Linked DNA regions of Homo sapiens. The protein of the gene in region 1 purifies or fractionates together with the protein of each later gene. This does not show direct contact. Each region holds a gene or a part of one and is shown in the gene's direction. Other genes may lie near its edges.

Region 1 (5,119 bases):
ACTCTCTGAATTTGTAGTCCTGAATATCCCAGTGGTGGGGGTTCCCAGCATTGTGGGTGCTACTTGCAAGGCCATAGAATCTAGATGGCCCTGTCTTGACCCTGAAATGAACCTTAAGCCTTAGAACAAAGTCATGCAGATGCCCCATTTGATAATAATCTTATTCACCTGTGCTCTGGTCCTCGGTTTCTGCATGTGTTAGCATTGCATTGATAACTCAGAATCTTGATAAACACTTAATATTTGGGCCTGAAGCATTAAACTTTCTTTTTATTGTATATACTTAAAAAATAGAACTCACTGCCCTATCATACATTGTAGCCCTCTTATTCTTTGGTCTTTCATATGCATTAGTTAAATCCCTTAAAGTAGACATTCATAAAAACTTACATTGTTTATTGGAGTATAAAATATTACCCAAGTTTCTTCATGAGTTGACATGAGCTGTTTTAAATACTGGTGTATTTTCAGAACAGTAAAATTACTGAATATCAGAAAAAATGTTAATTGATGATGAAGCTTATTCCCAAAATGCCTTTTGTGCATATGATACTTGGAAAGTCACTAATGTGCCTCAGTTAATACATCAGTAAAATGTTGTGTTTCTTTTCCAGTGTAGTGTTTTTGGAATATAAATTCCCCATGCTAGTATAGTATCTCAGCAAAGAGAATTTCCCCCCAGGAGGCTCAGTAAAGGAATACCGTGTCTTACCCATCGTTATGATGGAAGGCTGCTTTGAAAATGGCTGTTTTACCTTATAAGGTTAAAATTTTGATCCATATGTTAAGTGATAGAAGATTTTGGTGCAACAGTAGTAGGATATATTTCTCCTAGAACATCCCTTATTGGCTTACATGATTTTATTGCCTTTTAATAGATATTTTGTCATTTTGGCCAAACAAAAGACACTGAGTAGTTACACTTAAGTTAAAAATGAGGGGAAAATCATTATTTTAGGTGTGGAGCCATTTTTATTATAAAACTTTCTCAAAATAAAAAAACATTGAATCATTTCAATTTTTGCAGTCCCTGTATTAGTATATGAATACATACTTGCCATTTGAATTAATAACATGAAAAGAGTATACTGTGTTTTTAAATCCGTGTTTCTTTGAATTTAAAGGGTGTACAGGTCTTTCTGTAGGGAAAATTATTCCATGTAAACATTTCAACTCTGTATGAAAATGTTAAATATTGTAAGAAAGTTATCCTCTCATTTTTTCACTGCTATGATATATTTATTATAAAATAGGGAATGAATGAATGAATATGGATTGCTGTTAACTAGAAACACTTCTGTATGTCAGTCAGCATTTAATGACCACCTACTGTGTGCACAGCACTACTGGTAAAATTTTGAAGACATTGTTAACATTAAAAAATATTTTAAAGTTGTCTACAAATCTGAGCCTTGTAATGATGTATATTTAAGTTATTTTTGTTTTTATAGATTAAAGTAAGATTAAAATATACTATCCAGTTTTATTACTAAAAAAGACTGGTTTTAATTTTACCAATGTGTGAACTATAAAAGCTTTTTGCCTACAGATTTTACATTTTAAAATTATCTATGGCTGTTTTAAATTGTCTAGCAATTTATATGGTTGTGGTTAACTCATTTAAGAAACAATTATCTTTCTATATTAAGCCATTTTCAAATAGCAAGACAGTGCTTGTCTTTTTTTGTTATTACACTAACTGCAATTCAGTAAGCTGCATGACAAAATATGTATTATGTAAATAAACTGGGTTTACTAAATATTTTTAACTGCTGCTTGTCATTCTTTGTAATACATAACAGCTTTAAAATCATATTTTAGAATCAGGAACGAAGATTCAGGGAATGTCTGTCACATCTTATGGCATCCCACCTGGACAGAATATCCGATTTGAAGATTGTGATTGACTTCCGTAAAACTGTACAACTCTCCATTTGGCAGGTACCTACTAGATAATACTTTGCCCTGTATTAAATGTCAAGGGGCAAAGCCTATTCCTGTGAATTCCTGCTGGTTGCTTTGCTGCATTAGGTCCCTGTCCACTGTAAATCATCATTCCTGGGAATTCTACTTCTGCCCAAGTGTGTAAAGAATCAGCTCACCTATTAGAGAAGGGGTAGAAATACCTTCTGTGTGCATTATCACAATAACTGTGTTTACACTAAAGAGGTGTAAATACAGTCCTCTGAAATTTTGTACCAGAATTCCCAAGTAGTGTAATGAGATAATGATCCAGAACTGAAACTACCCTTAAGAAAACATTTTTGGAAGGGAGAGGTAAATAGCAGTAGGGGGTTTCTTGTGAAAAATTAACCTCCATCCTTAAGAGGGCTGAAATGAACAGCCACCAAGGTTCTAGTCCTGCTCTATAAAATCTGAGATCAAAATACTACCTAACCTGCACATAATCTCAATTGTGACAACCATCTGAACTATCTCATTTAATATGTAACAACAAATACAAGCTCAAGCTTTCAATATGAGAATATTAACTACATGTTACATATGATGCTTGACCTGGGCTTCCTTAAAAAGGTATTCGTTATCCAAAATAAATAGCTCAAATTGCAGCATATATTCATCTCAAGTAACTATAACTGAATTTGAACAGTAATACACTGCAAACTATTCTTTGTTAATAGAACTTTTCTAATCATTTGTGTTATTTTGCTTTGTACCATTCATTTTCATTAAAAAGATACAAAGCCCCTTTTTTTCACATAACTTTAGATAAATGTTACAACTTCAGAAAAAGTTAATTCATAAAAATAGGATGAACCTTTCCACAGGCTACCAAAGACTCCAGTTTTTGGAATAATACATATTATAACCTTGATGCCAAGCTTAGTCCATCAATCCAATAAATAGGTTTTCTCTTTAATGTGTCATAGCCTCTTTTCTGATATAATTGAGGATTACAATGTTATTTAAGCAAATAACCAGTATTAATTCAGCCAAAGATGTTATCAGTTTTAAAGATTTTTAAAAATTTATAATGTGGAAGCTGTAAAATAAGTTATTCAGAAGGCACTACACAATATTGTTTTTGCCTTACTGTCATCACTCGAGTATCAGTAATTATGACTCACTGAAAAAGTCGTGCTATTAAGTGTTCTTGTGGCAAAAACTCTTAAGTCAAATGGGTTTTCTTACCTAAATTGTAAACTCTGAGCTCCTTAAGAATAGGGATCTAATCTTAGCAACTTTTCTATTCCACTAGCTGCTACATAATAGGTGCTTAATGTTTGTGGTGTGAATGAAATAACTGAATTTGAATAGAAGTTTACATCCAAAAGTCATAATAAGACAAATAATGAAAAACTCCAAAGTCACTGATTATAAAGAATATGCAATCCATTTGGGATTTATTGCATTTAAAGAAAACAGATTAAAACAGGTATGATAAATACAGTAAGAAAATAACTTTAAATTTCAAACAAAACAGTGAATCAGGGACAGAATTCAGTCAAAAAGAATAAGCAGTGTAAAGGCAATAAAGTAATAAAATCAGTTAGTGCTTAATTAGATATGGCAGGGGAAAAGGGGTGGGAGGGGGAGACTGAGTCTATCTCATAATTGTTTCCCAGCTATATTTGAGGACTGAAGTTACTTTAGCAAGTATGTTTTGTAACAAGTAGAAATACAATAAAGATGTAAATTTGCTTTATTTAAAGGTTAAAGTTATTTGCTTAGTGGTACATAAAAGGCTTCAGAAAATTCAAGTTTAACAAAAAATGGAAGTGTAATCAAAGAAAGTGCACTTAAAGCTGTTTGCCAGCAATTAAAAAGTAGCTTCTATACAGCTTCTATTAGATGACTTTTCAATCACAAAAAGAGCATAGTCATAAAAACAATTCTTTCAAAAGTAGCAGTATAAATTTTAAAATAAAACAAAAATAACCCCAAATCATGACCCTTTGCATTATCATCTACCTTATTCTCTTAGTAGCTTTTGTAAACCCTCACTAGGAGTGAATGTTCTCTTAGATATGATTGTGGTTGCAATTCCATTTTTTAAAAATTCACATTAACTCCACAGTAGAGAGATGTGACATGCATGTGTGTACATATTTTTATCTTAATATATAAAACACCACTGAGTATAAAAGTTCTCAAATAAACTATTCATCATTTATGGTATTCTCACAGTAGATATGTCATCTCATTCTCACAGTAGACTGTCAACTCAATAATTGGACCTAAAATAACAAGTTTGCTAAAAAGAAAAAAAAATGAGAAAAAAGTTTACTGCACATTCTAAATATATTAAAAACAAATGTACCCAAGCGCCTCAAAACTAGTGATATTAATACACTTGTACCTTCTAACAGTGCTTACGTGAAGTACCAAAACCTAAAATAAACCAAGCAGAGTAGCTGACTTGTAAGAAAACTGCTCTGCCTGGTGAACTTCAGCATAGAAGAGTGGGCTCCACCTTAGATTTTCCACCAGCAAGAGGACAACAGTCTATCACTCTTAAACAATAAACAGGGTAAGACTGAAAGTTGTGTCTATTTGCAAATCCGGATAATGTCGTAACTATACCCAACACGTACACAGGGATTGGGGTAAGGGAAAATAATTACACTCCTGAATAAATGTTCTAGTCAGTTAAATTTTCATCCGGCCTACAACCTTTCCTCCTCCACCTATTATACTTACCATGCAATTTTTGTGTCTTAGCAGATACATTCTTCAATGCCATAAAAAGCTGATCTTTTTAATACTAACATTTTACTGACGTGATATTAAAATAAGCAAATGGTCCACTTTTTAAAGGATTATTCAAAATCAACAAGCATTATTAAAGCTGTTAAGAAACAACTTTGGCCTCAAGATTTTTGCTAGCTTCATAATAATTTACTTCTCTTAGTGATGTTCAAGTATAACAGGTTTAGTTATAACTACATCCTAAAGAAGCACAGGGGACACCCAAATAATATTAGGGAAAAAAAACCCCAAATATATATATATATATATATTTGCTTAGTGGTACATATATAATAACCTTTCTTCCTTCCTTAAACCAGAATTGAACCATCCCATAATAGAGCCAAACTTTTATTGAGTGCTGTGTGCCAGGTACTGTGTTAAGCACTTTCACATATCTTGGGAGCTT
Region 2 (4,734 bases), on another chromosome or scaffold:
CAACCTGACCCTCTCCCCTTCATTCATTCAGGAGCCAGGCTGATGCTGATGGTGCAAATCTCTACATGACCCTGGAGGTTTCCAAGTTAGCTTAGAGGAGGAGGCATGCATGCGAAAACACACATATGACAAAGTGACAAAGGCCTAGGATGGACCTCAGGACAGGTGACAGTGGGAGCAGGAAGGGGTGGGAGAGAGACCACCTCTGTCTGCCAGCAGGTGCTGAATAAGCCCAGGAGGGCCTAGATGCTGTGAGCCATTGAGATGGGGCTGCCTTCAGGGAGCGGGGGAGGAGAGGCAGTGTGAGCTGAAGGACTGAGCAGAAACCCCATACTCAGAGTTTCAGGCCTAAGCATCCAGTACTCTAATTTTAACACACAAGGGAACTGGGACCTCCTGGGGGGAAGCATCTTGACCAAGAGGCACAGTCAGGACTGGAACCTAGGCCTCTGGCTCCTGAGCCTGGTTTTTGCTCACCGCTCCACAGTGCCACCCTCTGCATCCACTGCTGTGTTTAGCAGTAAGGCTGTGAGAGCAGGAGGATGCTGAGGACTTTCTCTAGTTCAAAATGTACCTCTGCCCTTGACCTTCGTTCATCAGGGGACTAGGCACTTAAATCCACAGTGAAAAAGAAGGCCCAATGTGGGAAAAGTGACAGCTTTGAAATCAACATAAACCATGCCAGAGACTAATCCTCTTTCTGTCTTTTCCCCCTCCCAGCACCAGCATCCTTTGATAAGAAGGTGGGGGAAGGACAGTGAGGGCCCCGTTGTGCAGAGGAGTTAAGGATGGGAAAGGCTTGGGCGGTAGGAGGAAGAAAAGCTCCATTCTTTCCTCATCTGCCTAATAGAGTCTCCTGTCACTGGCTCTGTCTGGCCGCTTTAAGCTCTTTGGAATTTACATCCAGTGCTCACTCAACAAAGCCTATTGCATGGCAGGGCTGATGGAGCCCTGGGCCTGCTTCTCAGCGCTGCATGACCTTGGGCAAATCACATCCCACTGCAGAACCAGAATTGTCATTGATGAAGCTGGGCTACTATCACCTGCTTCCCTGGAATGTTTGGAGGATTGAGTGGGATAATGTGTATCAAAGCATCTAGCATAGTCTAGCAGAAAGCCTCCATATACACGTCCTTCTCCCATGGGGCATAGTCACAGGTGGGTGAGAGCTGTATGATTTGTCCAGGGCTATCCTTCTGGCAGAGATGGGATCTGAATTTAATGCAGGGGGACAGTTTTTCATGATGCTTTTGGGCCGGGCGCAGTGGCTCACACCTGTAATCCCAGCACTTTGGAAGGCCGAGGCGGGTGGATCACCTGAGGTCAGGAGTTCAAGACCAGCCTGGCCAACATGGTGAAACCCTGTTTCTACTAAAAATACAAAAATTAGCTGGGCGTGTTGGCTGGCACCTGTAATCCCAGCTACTCGGGAGGCTGAGGCAGGAGAATTGCTTGAACCTGGGAGGCAGAGGTTGCAATGAGCCAAAATTGTGCCATTGCACTCCAGCCTGGGTGACAAGAGGGAAACTCTGTCTCAAAAAAAAAAAAAAAGATGCTTTTGAACTCCTCAGATGGCTTTATGAAAAATGAAACACTTTGCCATGTTAGTGGTTGGCGCCTTTGAAAAAGGACAGTGGCAGGTTGAGAAGCAAGGACCTTGGAGCCAAGGAGATCTTTGATTCAGACCCGACTCCCTGACTGTGAAGTCTTTTGCACATTGCATAACCTCTCTTGGCATCTCAGTGTCTGTTTTCCAGCTTGTTGTGGCTCTTAGGTCAGAAGATGTCTGAATATGCCTGACATAGGGTCTAGCATCAGTGAGTGCTCAGTAATTTGAGTCCCTGGTCTACAGAGCCTCAGTGCTGGGACTCAGGGAGAGGAACATGTAGACTAAGGGAAGTTTCTTCACCAGCCCCAGCTTTGCTCAAAACCAGAGTTGAAGTAGAATGCAGAAGACGACGTGGAAGTGAAACTTGGGCAATAACTTCCTAAAATGTCTGCTTTGCTCCCCTGAACTCTGGTTTTGTGTCTTGCCCTCTGCTTCTGGGACACGAGAGACCAACCAGTGTGTAGACAGATCAAACAGGCTTGCAAATGAAAGAATCAAATGGAGATTTCTGTGTTTTCTGAAAAGTGGTATTTTACAGTCATTCCTAAACATGCCTTCATAACTCTCAAGTTTTCAGGTCTTGAGGGAGGAGTGAGATTCATCCTGCCATTCAACAACAGAACAGTCACTGAGTGTGCACCTCCTGTGTGCTAGGCCCCGTGATGGATCCACATGGGGAATGATAGTGTGTGCCCCACAGTCACCCCACACATGTCCCTGAGGCCTGAACAGCTTGGAGAATGAAGGAGTTTGGGTTTATTTCTTTGGGTTAACTTAAACTCAGCCCTTCTAGGCCCATTCTTTTCACTCAGGAATTGGATAAGCTTTTCTGAGGGGTTTGGAATGGGATGGCAGGGAGAGTCACCAGACACCATGAATGACAGGCCAGCAGGTTGATGGTGGCGAGTGGAGCAGGAGCTAGGGAGTGAGGTCACATTTCTGGACTATGTGTGCAGGCAGCTATGGACCTGGCAGAAAGCCCCTCTATTTATTTATTTATTTAGAGACAGAGTCTCGCTCTGTCACCCAGGCTGGAGTGCAGTGGCACGATCTCGGCTCACTGCAACCTCCACCTCCCGGGTTCAAGCAATTCTCCTGCCTCAGCCTCCCGAGTAGCTGGGACTACAGGCGCCCGCAACCATACCTGGCTAATTTTTGTACTTTTAGTAGAGATGGAGTTTCACCATGTTGGACAGGCCAGTCTTGAACACCTGACCTCAGATGATCTGGCCGCCTCGGCCTCCTAAAGTGCTGGGATTACAGGCGTGAGCCACCATGCCTGGCCTGGAAGCCCCTCTTAACAGGGCTCCCATCAGGATCACGTCGTGGGTTTCTGTGATTTTTTTGGTCTCCTTTATGGCAATATTAACTTTCTTTTATGGAGCATGGAGCAAGTGTCCTGTACTTTGTTGTTGTTGCTGTTTTTGGAGATGGAGTTTCGCTCTTGTTGCCCAGGCTGGAGTGCAATGGTGCAATCTCGGCTCAGCGCAACCTCCGTCTCCCAGGTTCAAGCAATTCTCCTGCCTTAGCCTCCAAAGTAGCTGGGATTATAGGCCTGTGCCACCACGCCCAGCTAATGTTGTATTTTTAGTAGCGACAGGGTTTCACCATGTTGGGCAGGCTGGTCTCGAACTCCTGACCTCAGGCGATCCACCTGCCTCGGCCTCCCAAAGTGCTGGGATTACAGGCGTGAGCCACTGCGCCCAGCCATGTCATATACTTTGAATATTTTATTTCTTACTTTCATGGTAACTCTGTGAGGCAGGTAATATTATTCCCGTTTTACAGATGAGGAAACTGAGAAAACCTGGAGGCTGATAAAAAGCAGAGCTGGAATTCAAACATACCAGGCCAGCTTCAGTGCCCACCTCCTGTTTTTACTACCTCCTTTGGGTGAACCTCAAACGTAACTGGAAAAGTCTATGAATGGAGTTGTGTAGCCGAGAGCAGACACTGCTCCTGCTGGACCCTGCTGGGAGAGGGCGGTGGTTTTCTCAGTGGGCATCTCATAACGGCGGGCATCTCAGCAGCCCTCAGGGCCAAGAACCACCTACTGCAAACTCGTCAGCCAAGGAAGCTCAGAATTTATAATTGTGGTTGTAAGTAGATTACTTGAGCTAATGTGAGCAGTGAGGTTTTTGGTAAAGTTAGTGTGAAACTGACTCATACTAATAATCTACCTCTTGATGCATTTGGTGTTGCGATTTGTAGCACTTTGCATTGTCTGCATACATGCATCCCCACTAGAAAAGATTTGGGGGAAAGAAGGGTCCTGAGACCATACACTCTGGGGGATTGAATTTGAAAGGAAAATTTCAATGTTTGGATGCTGGTCCATGTAGACTTGAGCAAATAAGGTGCACATAGGATTTATACCTCTGCTTTCAAGTCCCCCCACCCATTTTCTATATGTGACCTTGCCAGCATACTCTATGCATGTGTTCCCCCTTCTGCAGGATTTCTTTAATCTGCTCATACCTTGGGTGTGCTTACACTTCCTGGGTGGGAGGTTCCAGATATATGTGTGTATATATATACATATATATATACATATATATATGTATATATATACACATATATATGTATATATATACACATATATATGTATATATATATAATTTGTGTTTTTAGTAGAGACGGGGTTTTACCATGTTGGCCAGGCTGATCTCGAACTCCTGACCTCAGGTGATCCACCTGCCTCGGCCTCCCAAATAAATAAATATATATATATTTTATTTTATTTTATTTTATTTTATTTTTTGAGATGAGAGTCTTGCTACGTTGCTCAAGCTGGACTCACTCTCCTGGGTTCAAGTGATCCTCCCACTTCAGCCCCCCAAGTAGATGGGACTATAGGTGCACACCACTGTACCCGGCAAGCCAGATTCTTTTTCTTCTTTTTTTCTTTTGAGACAGAGTGTCACTTTGTCACCCAAGCTGGAGTACAGCGGCGTGATCTCGGCTCACTGCAACCTCCGCTTCCTGGGTTCAAGCGATTCTCATACCTCAGCCTCCTGAGTAGCTGGAATCACAGGTGTGGACCACCATGCCCGGCTAATTTTTGTATTTTTAATAGAGACAGTATTTTACCATGTTGGCCAGGTGAGTCTCAAGCTCCTGACCTC
Region 3 (4,734 bases), on another chromosome or scaffold:
ATTAACCCCCTCGAGACTTGGAGAATGTAATCTCACCCTCGTCCACACCCCTGACACAGGCACATAACCAGTTTCCTTTTCGGTGCCGTCACAGGCGGGCCACGTCGCAGGATAGGTTTTTCTACACATTTAACTGCTAAAAGGGGGAAAGTTCCGCTTTCAGACCTCCTTCACGGTGGTTCTTTTGGCGCCACAGGCTCGTGTGTCCAGGGGGCACCGAGCTGCGCGCTTTCGGCGAGCGGCTAGCCCCGGCTCACCGCAACCAGCCACCGTGAATCTGAGGATCCGATATCGGCCCTGGACCCTCAGATCCGTGGTTTCGGTGAATTACCGAGCTGGCATTGCCGAAATTCTCATTGCAGTATCAGTGTGTTTTGAAAGGAAAGGTTACAGCACTAAAGGCGCCGTGTCTACACTGAGGAAGCAAGTCTTGGACAGTAAGTGCGCCTTCTTCGGAGCCCTCTGCATAGCAGAGCCCGGTGGGGGCGCGGTGCCAAAGGCCGGCTTCATTTGAGCGGGGTAACTGCCTTCCCTGCCGGCCACTCTTCATTTCCGGAGCAGTTTTAATAGTGTATGTCCAGTTGTAGAGGTCAAAAACTCGAGTTTGTGAAACTGCTTCCCCGGGTCTTTCGGCTTGTAGTCGCTACAAAGTCATTGATATATTTTAGGCGTGCCACGTTACCTGTTTTGAAAGGAGGAGAAAAATATATGAACCACGAAAACTGAATTCAGAGATGAAGGCAATGAAGTGTGTGTTCAACATCCGAGATAGCAATATTCTCGTTATTCTTGTAGAAAGAGCGTCAGCCTGTGGTGACATTTTGTATTGCTTAAAAAAAGAATGCTTTTCTGGATTATTTACAAGGAGATGGGGCGCTGCAGTTAACTCTTTCTTCACTTGGGTCATCTGTATGAACCCCTCTATGGGATTTTTCATAACTACTCACTGATCTCACTGATATAAGATTCATTCTAAGACATAAGCACACATAAAGCTTTCTTCAGTGGGATATTATGTTTGAAACATATCAATTGATCTCAACAGGACTTGGGAAAGCATCAACTCAAATAATGTCCTTTCAAAGACTATTGATGTAGGACTATTGAAATTGATTAATTTAAAAACTAAAAACTGTTTAACAGCCAATATATATATATTTTTTCCTTAAGGATTTATTTAATCCAATAGCAATTTACAATTTAATGGAGCATTATTTGCAGTAAATTGCTTTTCTAGGCTTTCTTCAGGACATCTACCTTCAGGCACTTGAGCAAGTCATTTAACCTTTTTGAGCTTCAGTTTTCTCATACAAAATAAAAAGACAGACTAGAGGCCTACTCTCTGAAATGTCTCCCAGCTCAAAAACTCTTTGTTTCTGAAGTCTTAAGGTAAAAAACCAATTTAGGCAGGCAGAGTCATTTTTCAACACTATTTTTCTAAGGATCTCAGTCTAGACAAAATTCATATAAATTGTATTATTAGAAAAGTATCAGTAGACCCCAATTTCTAATTTCCTTTTTTTTTCTACCTTTAAAAATTCATGATAACATCTATGCTTACTCTTTCCAGCCTTAGTAGGGAAAAAAAAAAGCGTGAAGGAGAGAAATTAGCCTTCCACTCTCCTGGGAAAAGAGGACCCAAAAGTAAGAAAGGATAGTAGGCCTCAGAAAGCCCTGCTAGTGTAACTCATCTCTCCTGCAAACCTGTTCCTATATAAACTGCATACATAGTACCTAGAATGAGATGTAAATTATGGTTTATGCTTAAATATTCATATGACAAAGCCTCATATTGTACATCCTAAAGTTGCTCAAAAAGTTGATTTGCAACATGGTTGTAAATGCAAGACAGAAGGAAATAGAAAATACTAATATTTTTCTATTGTTTTAAAACTTGTAGAAATCCAAAATATCTTGTCTTACCAGATTCCAAACCTTTTCTGACTTTGTAAAAAATTCAAACTAGCTTATCTTTTTTAATAGACATTCAGATGAAAATGCATGTCTACCATTGACTTATCAAAAAGAAGAAAATTAATTAAATAGTCTTGTGTTATTAGAAAAATTGTATATTGTAGTCAGTATTCATGTGTTCAGTTTCTAACTATGTCATGTAAGAATGTTGTGACCTTGGGAAAATTATTTTTCTGCTCTTTTTTATTTCCCATCTGTGAATTTCTTTCTGTGCAATGTGTGGTTCTGATTGTGTTGAGATTAGTAATTCCCTTGCTCAGCATTTCAAATTTTTTAAGTAAAACGTGCTATATTAATTAAGGCTTTTATTATATTGTTAATAGAATAACATTCTTTAATTTATTCCACTTAATTATCACTTTTATCATTTTATTAAAATAATGGAAAGATGTTTCTTTTTTTTTTTCTCTTTTTTCTTTTTCTCCGTCAAATTTTCATGCCACTAACCGTGGGCCTTTGTAAAACTTAGTACCACCTAAGTTGTCAATATTACTTGGTGTAAGATGGCAGCAGTTTGTCAGATAGTATTTTAAATGCTTTATAATCACCATGTTTTACAATTCCAAACACACTTCTTTCTGTTCTGGCCATTTATTTAGCATAAAACACCATCAAAGAGTTCTAGCTCCCTGAAGGTATTCACTCAAGTAGACACATGCAATTTATAGCCCAGATATGCAGAAGATCCACTTAGGTATAGCTATGATAGAAGAATATGTCTCTGTCTCAATGTATACATAGAAACTTAAATGCAATTTCTCACAATGTGTTAATTTTATTCTTCATTGTTAAGTATTCACAGAGGCTAATCTCATTTCTTACACATTATGTGTGTGACACATGTATGTGACATATGAAGAATGAACTAACTTACTGGAATACTAAAGAATGGTTTCTTGGGTGTGGTGGGTGATAACATTTATTTGGTTATTACTTTTGGATTTCAACTCAGTTTATTTTCAATAAGAAATGGAAAAAAATCCATTTATACTTTTGATTACTTTTTTTATTAGGGTAGAATTTTCCTTTCCTTGTGGAGAGTAAATTCAAGACTAAAATAGATATTCTATATTCAGGAAGAGAATATTGCAGGCTGTTTGGTAAGGTTAAATCTAAATCCTACAATTATTATAGTGTCCCTATAGTACGTAAGTCATTACCATATTTTTGGAGTTACTGATATTTTCATGCAGCTAATTTCTCTGCTTAAATAATAAATTTTACATTCTCTTTTCTCCCTTATTATTGAATAGAATACCTTATATATTTCAGATAGGCCTAGTTCCAAATGTGGTATGGTATTCAGTAATTGTTTTATGCTAACCTATTATCATAGCCCATTACTGTAGTCTATGTTCCAAGAATGAAATTAGCTTTTAATGCTTCCTCTCTTATTTATCCAGTCAGTTCTCAATTATCCATTCCATTGAAGGGGAAATCAGAGTTGCGCACAATCCAAAACATCTTCTAACCAAAGGATTACTTAATTTGACTTTGAGTTGAGGTACTTCAATGAACATGTCTATACTTGTCTGGTCTAAGAATTCATAGTACTTCAACACAATGAAACTAAACTGCTGGGGAATAGGTTAATCAGAAATTAGACAGCTGTCCAGCTTCTCTGATTTGCTTCTCTATTACTGTTATTATTGTTTTAGCTCTTTTCTGTATCACTTAAGGAACTGATGCAAAATCTTGGCCCAAGTAAGACTAAAAACATCTATGAGATGAAACTAAACCTTTGCAATCTTCTCAAATCCTATAAATATTATAGACCCTTGATGTTCATTCACAGGAAAACATACTATGACCATGGCAATTGCTGTAGTCTTCTGGCCTTTGCTCAATGACACTTCCACTATGAATAATTTGTTTAGCTCTGCAAAATCACATTTCAAGTTTTAGAAAAATTTTACCCTCACCTGGCCCTTTTTCTTAAGCAAGTTTTTTATTACATCATATGAGTTTCCATGAATAAATGAATAATAAAGCAATACCCTTTTCATGTTATGAGTTGGGTTAGCAGCCAGGTAGGTTGACTCTCCAGTAGGATTTTCACACACCTGCTTTTAGAAAAAAAAATTACTACTTATAATGGATTATGGGGTTACAGTAAACAGTGAAAACCAGTAATATCAAATCCATAAATGTTAGGAAGATTGGAACTTGTAATTAAAAAAGACTTTATTTTTGATTATTTTAACTTATTATGATGATTTCACTAGAGAAGTTAACTGAATTTGTAGATTAAGATATCAACCAGCACTCCAACACAATGTTTTCTTGAGGGAGATAAATCTCAAAGATACTTTCACCTTAGAAATTGATATAAGTAGATTTTTATCCTCTCCATCTGTATAGTTTTAGAGAGAGTCTAGATTACCTTATTTGAACTGTGAATGAAGAAAAAAAAACTTTCCTGTACTTACTTGCCTTTGGTGCAAAATCAACATTGGAATGTTGATAATGACTAAAGTGAGTCTTAACTTTTCCCTTTTCCTTTTCCCTGTACTTGTCTTTGCTGTAGTTTTTACCACATTGTATTATGATATTGGTGACTTTTTTCAGTTGAACATAAATTTTTTGAATACCAAATATCATCTTTGTCTATGTATCCTCAAGTCTAGTTAAGAGCTTGACACCTAGAAGCTGCTTCACATTTTTTCTTTGCATTAAATACAGTAGAAGCAATGCATATGTGGAGAATTAAACTCCATATGGCAGCACCTGACATTCATGCATTACTAAGAAATTTTCTCA
Region 4 (4,357 bases), on another chromosome or scaffold:
TTTTAAAAGACAAGAGAGAAAAACTTAAAAGTACATTTTTTAAACCTTTCTTACAGACTGTTGATTTGAGTTTTTGTTTACAATGAGGATATTTTAGGGAAAGAATACTAATCTAGGTAGTGAATTGCCATAAGTATAAAAACTGTTGACTTGGAAGAAAAGTGGTTATGTTGTCCTTAATGGTTTCTGTTTAAGGCTTGGAGAGAAGTGCTTTTCTTAATATGTACTGCACCAGGTAAAGGTACAAAAATGTATTCTTGAGTCTTGAGAAGAAATGTGGTTGATGTAAACCTAATTGTTTGTGAAACGAATGGTTATTACCTGTTCTTGCAAGGAGGTGATCCCATGATGGTCAAGGAATAATTTTGGAGGAGACGTTTAACTTTAAAAAAAAAAATACAATCATTAGTTTCATGTTTGTTTAAAAGAAACTTTGTTTTCCTAACCAACATTTGAGCTCCATTCATCTCTTGATGCAGGGAGAGATGTTATTGTAAATGTCTAGTTCTTTATGTTACTTTACAGTAGGGTTTTTAAAAGACTGTACTCAGTAGACCCACTGAAGGAATTCCTAAAAATACGTATGTCCCCATCCCCTAAATTCTAATTCCAGAGGTAGATTTAGACACTCCACAGGCTGTCCTTGTGTGTCTTTTATTGAAAACCTCTTTTTTATAAAATTAATCTACCCAAGATAACACTTCATGAAAACCTCTTTTAAGGTTAAAGATTAAAGGTTAAGATTAAGATTAAAGATCTGCCCACGTCGGCATAGAAACAGGTGGGGTTTTCTGACAGGGTCTTGCTCTGTCACCCAGGCTGGAGTGCAGTGGCATGATCAGAGCTCATTGCAGCCTCGACTTCCCTTGCTCCAGTGATCCTCACATGTCAGCCTCCCAAGTAACTGGGACTACAGGCGCACGTTACCACACCTGGCTAATTTTTGTATTTTTGGTAGAGACAAGGTTTCGCCATGTTGCCTAGGCTGGTCTCGAGGTCCTGCACTCAAGCGATCCACCTATCTCGGCCTCTCAAAGTGCAGGATTACAGGCATGAGCCACTGCGCCCAGCCCAGAAAGAGTTCTAAAATGGAGAAATATCCTCAAATGCTGTGTTTTGTTATCATGCTTTCATAATGCACTTGGTAGAAATCTCAAAGATTTCATGTAGATCTTAAAAATAAGACTGCTCATTTTTAAAATAGTTAACTTCTATTAAACATAAGCTTGTCAGTCATAAGGTTTGAAGTACATGGAAGGTACTGTGAATATGAATTTAGAATTACACTAAAAGAATGTGAATCTTGGTCATGGATAAAGCAGTTTATCGGCTGAAAACTCCATTTTTATTGTCTGTACAAGGAAATTATGATATAGGAGAATTCAGCTTATCTAGACAGTCTTAAGTTTCTAAAAATGCTTCCTTGACCTGAGACAAGATGATGGTTTCCTGTCCTTTTAGTGATCACTTAGATCAGTTTTTAAAAATGTACAGTAAACAGTGGTTATACTGGAGCAAGTGAAGTCAATTAGGTGCATAGATTTTCACCCTTAATTTGTTTATTTAAAATTTTAGAACCAGAATCATTAGAATATTTTAGTTTTGTTGTTTAATAGTGCTTAAGAGCAAATGTTTGGAAAGTAAAAATAACTTAGCAGAGCCTTGGGTTGAAAATCTTATTTACTACCCACCAACCCTGTAATTTCCTGCTGTTTAAATTTGGACACTTTGGTACATTATATATTAATTGCTTAAAAGTTAATTTGTTACCTTTCAGTCCTTAGGAAGTGAATGAAGGAATACTTTAAAACATTACCATATCACCCAGGATTATGCAGAAACTCATTTCACTACATCCTCATATCATGACTCTGTTTACTCCCATCCCCAGGGCCTAAGCAAGGCCCTGTAAAGCGTCGTCTTCAGCCCCCACATTCACTGCTGCTCGGAAACAGCACTGCTGCACTACCTTTTTGGAAGTGGGATCTCCCACAAATGCTGATTTCTGAGGAGACTCCCTTTGACAGCTCTTGACTGGTGCCCTTCAAGCAGTATGGGAGCCAGCTAACAGTGTGGAGGTCACTGGCACCAAGCTGTTCTGATGAGAGTAGAACACCTGGGAAAATTTTCTTCTGTCCATTTCAGATGGGTGGTGTTTTTCCAATGACAGAAGAAAAGTATGTAAAAAATACTTAAACCCTTCCCTACACTTAATAGGTATGGTAGTAGACTCCTTTGGGCTCACTCATTGTTCTTGCTTCTCAGTAAGTGACAATGATTAAATATCATTCATTTTTCAGTGTTAACTGTGTAAAATTAATAACTAATGACCAAAAAAAAAAAAAACTAATGACCAATTTGCATTTTCTCCAAATCAAAAGAATATACTAATACTTTGCTAAGTATGATGAAATCAGTCCTTACATGTGTGCTTTAGGAATATGTGTGCTTTAGGAATATGTATGATTTTTTTTTAACGATAACAGAAAAATTCAAATGTAAACAGAACTATATAAAATTGCTTAAACCCCCATGTAGATATCATTCAGTTTAAATTAGCTTATTAATTCATGGATGGTTATTGTTTGCTCTATACGCTACTTCCCTCTCCTTAATATTTTGAAGTAAATCTTAGTCATATCATATTATCTAAAATTAATTTAAAATTATTGAAAGACTATCTTGAGTTGTATAAAGATATTTGAGCAGGTGTCTTTTACAAAACAGCAGAATTCTTTACTGAAGCTATAAAATAAGGAAAAGTGCATAAATTTATAGTTCAACAAACTGTAAAGATAATTCTTGTAAAAAATTTTATTCCACTAAAATTACTCATGATTTTCCTTTCCAAAGATAAACACTATTACCATCTTGATTTATAGTCCTCTAGTCTTTTTAAGCATAGATTTATGCACAAATCTAGATGAAGATTGCATATAAACATATGCATTCATAGCACCGCCACTCAAGTCAAGATATGGTATTCCTTACTAATTGCAGTCCCCTACCTCGGTCTATTATTCTGACATGTGTGGTTTGAAATAATGCTTTTTAAACTCTTTTTCATCATAAAATAGATCAGCCTTAAACATTTGGAAAATATGGCAGTTCTTTTTATGGAAAACTCTTGCATAATTAAAAATGATTTTAACAGAGAATTTAATGATAAAGAAAAATGCTTATGATAAAATGTAGGAGGAAACAGGTTATATAAATGTATAATGATATCTCAGCTATATAAAAATTTAATAGAAAAATAAAATAAAAATCATCGTTAAAATTTATCTCACTGTACTGTTAGATCAAGCTGGTATTGGGGTTAAATTTTTATGAATAAAATAATGTGAATGAAATTAATTAGAAGCAACTAGAATGATAGGAGGCGGGAAAGGCTAAGTAGTTTTGCAAAGTAGAGTAGCTGTGTATGGATTCAAGTGCAATAAGAAAGCTGGTGTTGTCAGGTTCAGATTGAAAAGATAATGTTAGGTAAAATAGGTAGAAGAGTTTGTAATTTGTAAACATTATACATGACTTTCTATTTAGGCTAATATAAAAGTAATTTTTAGTATTTATGTTCTTGGTGATATTTTAACCTCATTAACTCTAATTGAAATGATAGTATAGATTTGTTAGTTTTCCTTATCACATTGTGATGTGTTGAGTAATGTTTGTTTCCTAATAGATAAGGCCTTTTATGAAAGCGCACCTAAATCGTGATAAAGACAAAGAACTTTTAAAATTAACTCAGTACCTCAAGGAGATAGCAAAATTAGATGACTTTTTGGATCTAAATCACAAATATTGGGAAAGGTAAGTTTTAATTGCTTATTTATTTTCTCTTTACATCAATGAAGAAAAAATTATCATTTTTCATCAGTGACCCCAGTATATATATAGCTGTCTTAATTTTTATTTAAAATAGGTGACTTCTAAAAACATTTTCTAATCCAGTGACCTACCCCCAAAAGTATTTTCCCCTTTCATCTTAACCTCTAACTTGTTCATAAACATACCTCTTGTAAACTCTTTAATACTTCTAGAAGAGAGAACTTGAGAGACTAGCATATGTTGGTGATGCTGCCTGTAAATTATTTTGTGATGTTAGGTAAGCTACTCCTTTATGAATCACATGGAATATAATCCCTCTTCTCATACTGTAACTTAATGTCAGGATAAGATAAAACACATGTAAAAATTTCATAAATAGTATTAAAAATTACCAGTAACTTGAGTGTAGCAGAGAAATTAGAAAAGTTTATCCTACTAAAAAAACAATTACTCATAATTTTCCTTTTTAAAGATAACCACTGTTACCATCTTGGTATATAGTCTTTCAGTCTTTTATCTAAACCCAAAT

What was found. Proteins that work in one complex are often made in the same cells at the same time.
Region 2: the proteins of PAQR3 (region 1) and CYRIB purify together in Homo sapiens (affinity purification with mass spectrometry; one large-scale study listed by BioGRID and IntAct). This does not show direct contact.
Region 3: the proteins of PAQR3 (region 1) and ALCAM purify together in Homo sapiens (affinity purification with mass spectrometry; one large-scale study listed by BioGRID and IntAct). This does not show direct contact.
Region 4: the proteins of PAQR3 (region 1) and UBLCP1 purify together in Homo sapiens (affinity purification with mass spectrometry; one large-scale study listed by BioGRID and IntAct). This does not show direct contact.

What each region holds. Positions count from the first base shown.
Region 1 is NC_000004.12:78,914,583-78,919,701, reverse strand, and holds part of PAQR3 (progestin and adipoQ receptor family member 3), read left to right. Parts: 3' UTR 1-1,821; coding exon of another isoform or gene 1,822-1,907; 3' UTR 1,908-5,119. UniProt on the Homo sapiens protein: Golgi-scaffold protein which modulates its interactors acitivies by anchoring them to the Golgi apparatus. Functions as a spatial regulator of RAF1 kinase by sequestrating it to the Golgi apparatus.
Region 2 is NC_000008.11:130,006,087-130,010,820, reverse strand, and holds part of CYRIB (CYFIP-related Rac1 interactor B), read left to right. Parts: exon of another isoform or gene 1-165; intron 166-2,367; exon of another isoform or gene 2,368-2,487; intron 2,488-4,734. UniProt on the Homo sapiens protein: Negatively regulates RAC1 signaling and RAC1-driven cytoskeletal remodeling. Regulates chemotaxis, cell migration and epithelial polarization by controlling the polarity, plasticity, duration and extent of protrusions.
Region 3 is NC_000003.12:105,369,149-105,373,882, forward strand, and holds part of ALCAM (CD166 antigen isoform 1 precursor), read left to right. Parts: intron 1-4,734. UniProt on the Homo sapiens protein: Cell adhesion molecule that mediates both heterotypic cell-cell contacts via its interaction with CD6, as well as homotypic cell-cell contacts. Promotes T-cell activation and proliferation via its interactions with CD6.
Region 4 is NC_000005.10:159,279,530-159,283,886, forward strand, and holds part of UBLCP1 (ubiquitin-like domain-containing CTD phosphatase 1), read left to right. Parts: intron 1-3,682; coding exon 3,683-3,810; intron 3,811-4,357. UniProt on the Homo sapiens protein: Dephosphorylates 26S nuclear proteasomes, thereby decreasing their proteolytic activity. Recruited to the 19S regulatory particle of the 26S proteasome through its interaction with 19S component PSMD2/RPN1.